Linked DNA regions of Homo sapiens. The protein of the gene in region 2 purifies or fractionates together with the protein of the main gene of each other region. This does not show direct contact. Each region holds a gene or a part of one and is shown on either strand. Other genes may lie near its edges.

Evidence for each region.
Region 1: the proteins of MEF2B (region 2) and UBN2 purify together in Homo sapiens (affinity purification with mass spectrometry, with the first as the bait; one large-scale study listed by BioGRID). This does not show direct contact.

Annotation. Positions count from the first base shown.
Region 1 is NC_000007.14:139,258,604-139,262,420, reverse strand, and holds part of UBN2 (ubinuclein-2), read right to left. Parts: coding exon 3,796-3,817; intron 3,155-3,795; coding exon 3,051-3,154; intron 1,170-3,050; coding exon 680-1,169; intron 1-679.
Region 2 is NC_000019.10:19,149,555-19,153,371, reverse strand, and holds part of MEF2B (myocyte-specific enhancer factor 2B), read left to right. Parts: intron 1-2,607; 5' UTR 2,608-2,636; coding exon 2,637-2,690; intron 2,691-3,817. Other genes in the region: BORCS8-MEF2B (myocyte-specific enhancer factor 2B), read left to right, coding at 2,637-2,690. UniProt on the Homo sapiens protein: Transcriptional activator which binds specifically to the MEF2 element, 5'-YTA[AT](4)TAR-3', found in numerous muscle-specific genes. Activates transcription via this element. May be involved in muscle-specific and/or growth factor-related transcription.

The DNA.
Region 1 (3,817 bases), on a different chromosome or scaffold from region 2:
CTATTTAAGAGAAAAGGTCTAGGCTGGGCGCAGTGGGTCACACCTGTAATCCCAGCACTTTGGGAGGTCAAAGCAGGCAGATCACTTGAGGTCAGGAATTCAAGACCAGCCTGGCCAACATAGGGAAACCCCATCTCTACTAAGCATACAAAAATTAGCCGGGGGAGATGGTGCGCACCTGTAATCCCAGATATTTGGGAGGCTGAGGCAAGAGAATCTCTTGAACCTAATAGGCAGAAGTTGCAGTGAGCAGAGCACGCCACTGCACTCCAGCCTGTGTGACGACGGAGCAAGGCTTTGTCTCAAAATAAATAAATAAATAAATAAATAAAATAAAACACCAGGTGCGGTGGCTCACGCCTGTAATCCCAGCACTTTGGGAGGCCAAGGCAGGCGGATCACAAGGTCAGGAGATTGAGACCATCCTGGCTAACACGGTGAAACCCCGTCTCTACTAAAAAAAAAAAAAAAAGAAAGAAAGAAAGAAAAAAGAAAGGTCTAAAAGGAAACATGGCAAATAAAAAGTTATAAAAATGTTCAGATTGTAGTTTATTATTTTTATCTTTAAAAAACAAAAGCAATTATACCAGTGTTATGTGGAAAATAAAAACAAACGAACAAAAGCATTAATTCTTATGTTTGTGCAGCAAATAAAAAGCAAGAGAATTATTACACTTACTACACGAAGGTCTTCGATACGTTTTTCAAGAAGTACAGGTAGACCCTCTGGGAGTGTAGGTACCACTTTGGGCATAACCTGAGAAGTGTAGGTTGGCTGGGTGGTGGTTCCATTTTCACCCCCCGACTCAGATAGGGGGCTACCATCAGAAGCAGCATCCAGTAATCTGTCGAAGTCAAAATCATCTAGCATCTCTAGGGCATTTTCAGCTTCCTGAAACAGCTCATGTTCATTTGTGCTAACAAAAATGGGAAGGTCTGGATCACCGCTGCTCAGATTTAAGTCCGGGACGTCATTCCCCAGTGCTGCAGCAGCACATGGGGGTTTATTCAGAGAAGGGGTTGACAAGGTCACTGGGACTTTGGGGTTAGACTCCTTCTTTAATGCATCCTTCTCTTTCTGGAATTTTCTAATCATGGCAGCTAGAGAAAGAGAATCTTTATAACGTTTCTTCTTTTTTTCAGACTTGTGTGAATTTAGAGCCACAACTCTGTGAAGACAAAAATGATCAGTTAGGCTATGTGTGATTTTAAACGTTAAAGTGTCACATAAATAAGCAGGCACAGAATTAAAATAATAATTTGACAGGTGACAGAGCAGTTTTCTTAATTTCTTATTAACTTATACTATTACAATAGCACCTTCTTCAGTATAATCTGGAATGTCACCCACGAAAGGCAAATAGGTAAATGGCCATTACAGTGAAGAAAATGGGGAAACAGCTCAGTTTAGCTATTACTTCCTCCTAGAAATCTTTTCTAAATCCTATGGCTTAAATGCTTCTATGTGCACTACAGAACCTAAAAGGTTATTAGCATCTTAAAGGCAGCCCCGTGTTTCAGTCACTGTTATACAACCCAAACCCTGTATCAGTGCCTGGTATACAGCAGGGTACTTAATAAATATTAGCTGAATAAATGAATAAGTTATAAAGTTGAAAAACAATACACTCAATAAAAGGGATTACTTATAGCCTACATTCCCAAAGAAGTCTACTTGTAAATAATGAAGATTTAAGACAACCATTAGTAATATACACATTTTTCCTCCTAATTTCTTAATGACTGTAATCCCAAGTTTTAGGAGGGGAGAAATACGCCCGACATCAATCTTATGGATATTGATAACCCAAAATTCAGATGCACCTCCACTGCTAAGTAGAGTAAGAAAATTCAGCCTCTCACAAGCGTCTTTCCCTTAGCTCTGTGAAAAAAGCCACAGAGAAGTCAAGGCAATTGGTAATGTTTGACTGCATTATACAAATATTTTATTCTTCTGATGTAAGGCTTCTGAGAAATTCTATTTGTTTTTTAGCAGCAATATCATTAATAATAGCTATATACTGGCTGTGTGCAGTGGCTCATGCCTGTAATCTCAGCACTTTCGGAGGCTGAGGCTGGTGAATCACTTGAGCCCAGGAGTTCGAGACCAGCCTAGATAACATGGCGAAACACCATCTGTACAAAAATATAAAAATTAGCCAGGCATAGTGGTACATGCCTATAGTCCCAGCTACTCAGGTAGCTGAGGCAGGAGGATCCCTTGATCCCAGGAGGTTGAGGCTGCAGTGAGCCATGATTGTGCCAGTGCACTCCAGCCTGGGTGACATAGCAAGACCCTATCTAAAAGAGAAAAAAAAAAAAGAATAGCTATGTAAAATCAATGAAAATTTTGGCTGGGTGCAGTGGCTCACATCTGTAATCCGAGCACTTTGGGAGGCTGAGGGAGGCAGAATACCTGAGGTCAGGAGTTTGAGACCAGCCTGGCCAACATGGTGAAACCCTCATGTTTCACTACTAAAATATTCTCTACTAAAAATACAAAAATTAGCCGGGTGTGATGACATACACCTGTAATCCCAGCTACTTGGGAGGCTGAGGCATAACAATCACTTGAACCCAGGAGATGGGAGTTGCAGTGAGCCTAGATTGTGGGACTGCACTTCAGCCTGGGTGATACAGTGAGACTCTGTCTCAAATCAATCAAATCAAAATTTTTAATATTAAAACAACCATAAATTGTTTACATATAGGCTACTGCCAATCCTCATTCCCCAGGCATCTAAACTTAGTTTTAGTACCAAAAGATTAGAACAGTTTTTTCAATGTTTATAATATCTTTTCAAACTGGTTCTTGTTGGTAAAAGTAGTAATGAGCATTTCACCTAAAACACTAGGAGTCTCTAAGATGACAAAGCCTTCTACTTAAGAACAAATACTACAATACTATTAAACATAAGTCACTAATATGTCAATAACGTACTAAATTAGACTCAGCTAGGTTGAATTAGTTAATGGTAAGTATATCTTTCTAAAGGGAGAGACAGTCAGACTGTGACGCCAGTTCCCTTCTTAGGTTTAATTTAACGTACCCCAGTTGTTTGGGAACTTTTTTCCTTGGCTTCTTCTCCTTTTCCCCTTCCTCTTTCCGCTTCCGCTTCTTCATCTCAATATCATCTTCTTTTATTTTGGGGACCTGCAAAATGATAAAAGAATGATCATTTATGTAAGTAACAATGCTTTACTCTTTGATGTTAGCAATCCAGCATCAGCAGTGGTTTTTCTCAAATGTCAGTGTGCATTACAATCGTTTGTTATAACTGCAGATCCTTGGGGTTCAAGAGCACTCTCACCTCCGGTTTCGATTCAGTTATCTGAGTTAGAACCTTATAATTTGCATTTTAAACAAGCATTCTGGTGATTCTGGTGTAAGTAAGTCTTTGGGCCACACTTCAAGAAACACTTATCCAAGGACACTATATCTTTCCCAAAGACAATGTATACAAATTCTATAGATTTTGTTAAAAATGACATCTTAGGAAAGGTAACAGCTATTAATATTAACCTATCCGAGAAATATAACCTTCTCCCAGAAACAGTAAATTATTAGCCCACATTTGTAGAGAGAAGTTTTTATAAGAAAATATAATTCTATGATGTAAATACCAATTTTCCAATATCTACATAATTTAATTTTAAAGCATGTAATTATATATTCATGACACAATGGTTTGTATTTTACTTTTCCTTACATTCACACGTGTGACACAAGTAACATTAAAAAAAATCCTATTAATTGAACATTCTCAGTACTGTTGCAATGTTTGATAAACTCACCTTGGGTGGCTTGTGCTTTTGG
Region 2 (3,817 bases):
TTTCTTGTCCCTCCTCAGGGCCCTGGCACCTGCTCTTCCTTCTGCCTGGAACTCACTTTCTATCTCAGCTCTCAGGGTCTCAGTGCAGAGAGAGACTTCCCAGTTCTCCCCCATCACATGACCTCTGCCCTAGCCATGGTGTCTGTGTCTAAAATGGGGACAGACAGAGTGAGAAGGGGCTTGAGTCAGGTCTTCCAGGCTTAAGAGACTCAGGCCTAAGCCCCAGCCCTGCTGCTGCTCTCGTGGGACCCTGGGCATCAGGGGCATTTCCGGAGTCATCTTGGCCCTGGGACCTCCGGACCAAGGCCCCCGTCCACCCCCCAGGGACCCATCAGGGTGGGGGCAACATATCCCAGCCGTGGGAACAGGCCCGATTCCGGCTGGGGATTAAAATTAGCCCTGGAGGTTAAATTTAGCAAGTCAAGCCGGAGCTGAGGGTCTGGGACTGACAGCTTGGGCTCTACATAGTTGTGGGGGCTCAGAGACCCAGCCCAGAGAGGGCAGAGGGTGTGCCTGGGGTCACACAGCATGCCATATCTGCCAGCCGAGGTATCTAACACTTCTGGGCCCTGGGATAATGGAGGGCCTTGCCCAGACCGCTTGGGCAGGGGTCTGGGAAGCCCTGAGAACACTCCCAGAGAACAATCTGGATTTCTTTCTTTCTGTTTTTGAGACGGAGTCTCGCTCTGTTGCCCAGCCTGTCAAAATCTCGGGATCTCGGCTCACTGCAACCTCCGCCTCCCAGGTTCAAGGGATTCTCCTGCCTCAGCATCCTGAGTAGCTGGGTCTACAGGTGCCCACCACTATGCCTGGCTAATTTTTGTATTTTTAGTAGAGACAGGGTTTTGCCATGTTGGCCAGGCTGGTCTCGAACGCCTGACCTCGTGATCCACCCACCTCAGCCTCCCAAAATACTGGGATTACAGGCATGAGCTACCACGCCAAGCCAGATTTCTTTTTCTTTTTCTTTTTCTTTTTCTTTTTTTTTTTTGAGACAGAGTCTTGCTCTATCACCCAGGCTGGAGTGCAGTGACACACCTGCCTCAGCCTCCCAAGTGGCTGGGACTACAGGTGTGCGCCACGACAGCTGGTTAATTTTTGCATTTTTAATAGAGATGGGGTGGGTAGGATGCGGTGGTAATCCCAACACTTTGGGAGGCCAAGATGGGTGGATCATGAGGTCGGGAGTTTGAGACCAGCCTGACCAACATGGTGAAACCTCGTCTCTACTAAAAATACAAAAATTAGCTGGGCATAGTGGAGGGCACCTGTAATCTCAGCTACTTGGGAGGCTGAGGCAGGAGAATCACTTGAACCTGGGAGGCGGAGGTTTTAGTGAGCCGAGATCGCGCCATTGCCCTCCAGCCTGGGCAACAAGAGTGAAAACTCGTCTCAAAAAAAAAAAAAAAAAAATAGAGATGGGGTTTTAGCATGTTGGCCAGGCTGGTCTCGAACTCCTGATCTCAAGTGATCTGCCTGCCTCGGCCTCCCAAAGTGCTGGGATTACAGGCGTGAGCCACCGTGACCGGCCTGATCTGGATTTCTTGATAACTTGTTGCCAAGCCTGGTGGTGGGTGCTCAGCATTTCCTACCAGCCCATTCACAGAAGAGCAAACTGAGGCCTGGGGAAAGGGTCTTCTGTGCTGAGGGCTGCCCTGAGGGTCAGAGGGAAGGCCAGGCCTGAGCGTAGGTCCGCGTGACCCTGGAGAGGCCCCTTGCCTGAAGCCTCAGTCACCTGTGACATGGTAGAGGCTGGGAGGTGGAGTGTGGTCACACAGTTGGCGGAGCGGGGACGTCCCCTGTGGTGTCAGGGGACGTCTGTACAGAGGGCGGCGGCTGCAGGACAGGCCACATGATTCGATTGTTCCCAGGAACCTCGAGTGGGGGTCTCTGGGGAAGGCCTGGACCCCAGCATAGTCCAGCAGTCTCCTCCTTCTGGGACCCCTACCAGGGCGATCTCACATCTCCTTGAGTGGGGTACAGGATTTCTTCCAAGTCACCAAGTGGATGCCAGGCCCACACCCTGGCCCAAGGACTCTGAGCTGGAGGCCTTTCCAGAGTGTGCCTGCATCCTCCTGCTAGAGCAGGAGGCGTTTCTATTATTCTGTTTTCTTTTTCCTTTAAAGACTGGGTCTCTGTTGCCCACGCTGGAGTGCAGTGGCAAGATCATAGTTCACTGCAGCCTCAACCTCCCCAGCTCAAGTGATCATCCTACTTCAGCCACCGGAGTACCTGGGACTATAGACGTGTGCCACCATGCCTGGCTAATTTTTGCATTTTTTGTAGAGCCGGGGTTTCAACATGTTGCCCAGGCTGGCCTCAAACTCCCAGGCTCAAGTGATCCTCCTGCCTTGGCCTCCCAAAGTGCTAGGGATCACAGGCATGAGCCACCATGCCCCATTTGGTCTAAACATGTTCATTGAGCCTCTACTGCATCCTAAGGCTGGCCGGGGGCGGGGTCTGCGACAGTGACCCAGCCTGCCTTGATTTTCCCCATCATCTTCCTCTCAGTGGCTGGCAGGGGCAGACAGAGGAGAGGTGTGAGGCTGGGGTACCCCTCCCCACTCTCCACCCACTCACTCTGTCCTCTCCCTCTTCTCCTCCTAGACAAAGATCATTCCACTCAGCCTGGGACGATGGGGAGGAAAAAAATCCAGATCTCCCGCATCCTGGACCAAAGGAATCGGCAGGTGAGTTCACTGGGTGGAACAGTGGCTGGGAAAGACATTCCTAGCAGGGGGCATGGCCTAGGCAAGGGACTGACCTGACCAATTGAACTGCAGGGGAATGAGGAGGCATGAGGAGTCCTGATGCCATGTCAGCCTTTCTTTTTTTTTTTTTTTTTTTTGAGATGAAGTCTCACTCTGTTGCCCAGCCTGGAGTGCAATGGTGCAATCTCAGCTTACTGCAACCTCTGCCTCCCGGGTTCAAACGATTCTTCCTCAGCCTCCTGAGTAGCTGGGATTACGGGTGCGCACCACCAAGCCCAGCTAATTTTGCAGTTTTAGTAGAGACGGGGTTTCACCATGTGGGCCAGGCTAGTCTCGAACTCCTGACCTCGTGATCTGCCCGCCTCGGCCTCCCAAAGTGCTGGGATTACAGGCGTGAGCCACCGCGCCTGGTCTGTCAGTGTTTCTTGTTTCCCCTCCCTCCCTCCTTCCCTCCTTCCTTCCTTCCTTCCTTCCTTCCCTCCCTCCCTCCTTCCCTCCCTCCCTCCTTCCCTCCCTCCTTCCCTCCTTCCTTCCATCCCTCCTTCCATCCTTCCTTTTTTTTTTTTTTTTTTTTTTTGAGATGGAGTTCACTTTGTTGCCCAGGCTGGAGTGCAGTGGAGCGATCTCGGCTCACTGCAAGCTCCGCCTCCTGGGTTCAAGTGATTCTCCTGCCTCAGCTTTCCGAACAGCTGGGATTACAGGCGCCCACCACCACGCCTGGCTAGGCTAATTTTTGTAGTTTTAGTAGAGTCAGGGGTCTCACCATGTTGCCCAGGCTAGCCTCGAACTCCTGACCTCAATCAATCCTCCTGCCTGGGCCTCCCAAAGTGCTGGGACCTCAGGCTGAGCCACCGCACCTGGCCTGCTCATTTTCATGATCATTATTCATTTATTCTCCCTGATGACTGGAACCCCAGCCATAGGGGAGATGGAGCTTGACACAGCCACACCTAACTCAGAGGGCCAGAACAGAGGGAGGCCCAGAACTGGGAAAGCCCAGAGAGAGCATGTGGACTCTGCCTGGGAAGCCAAGGCACACTTCCCAGACATTTGGGCTGGGTTTTGAAGCTCCAGTAGGAGTTTGCCAGGTTGTGACATGAGAATTA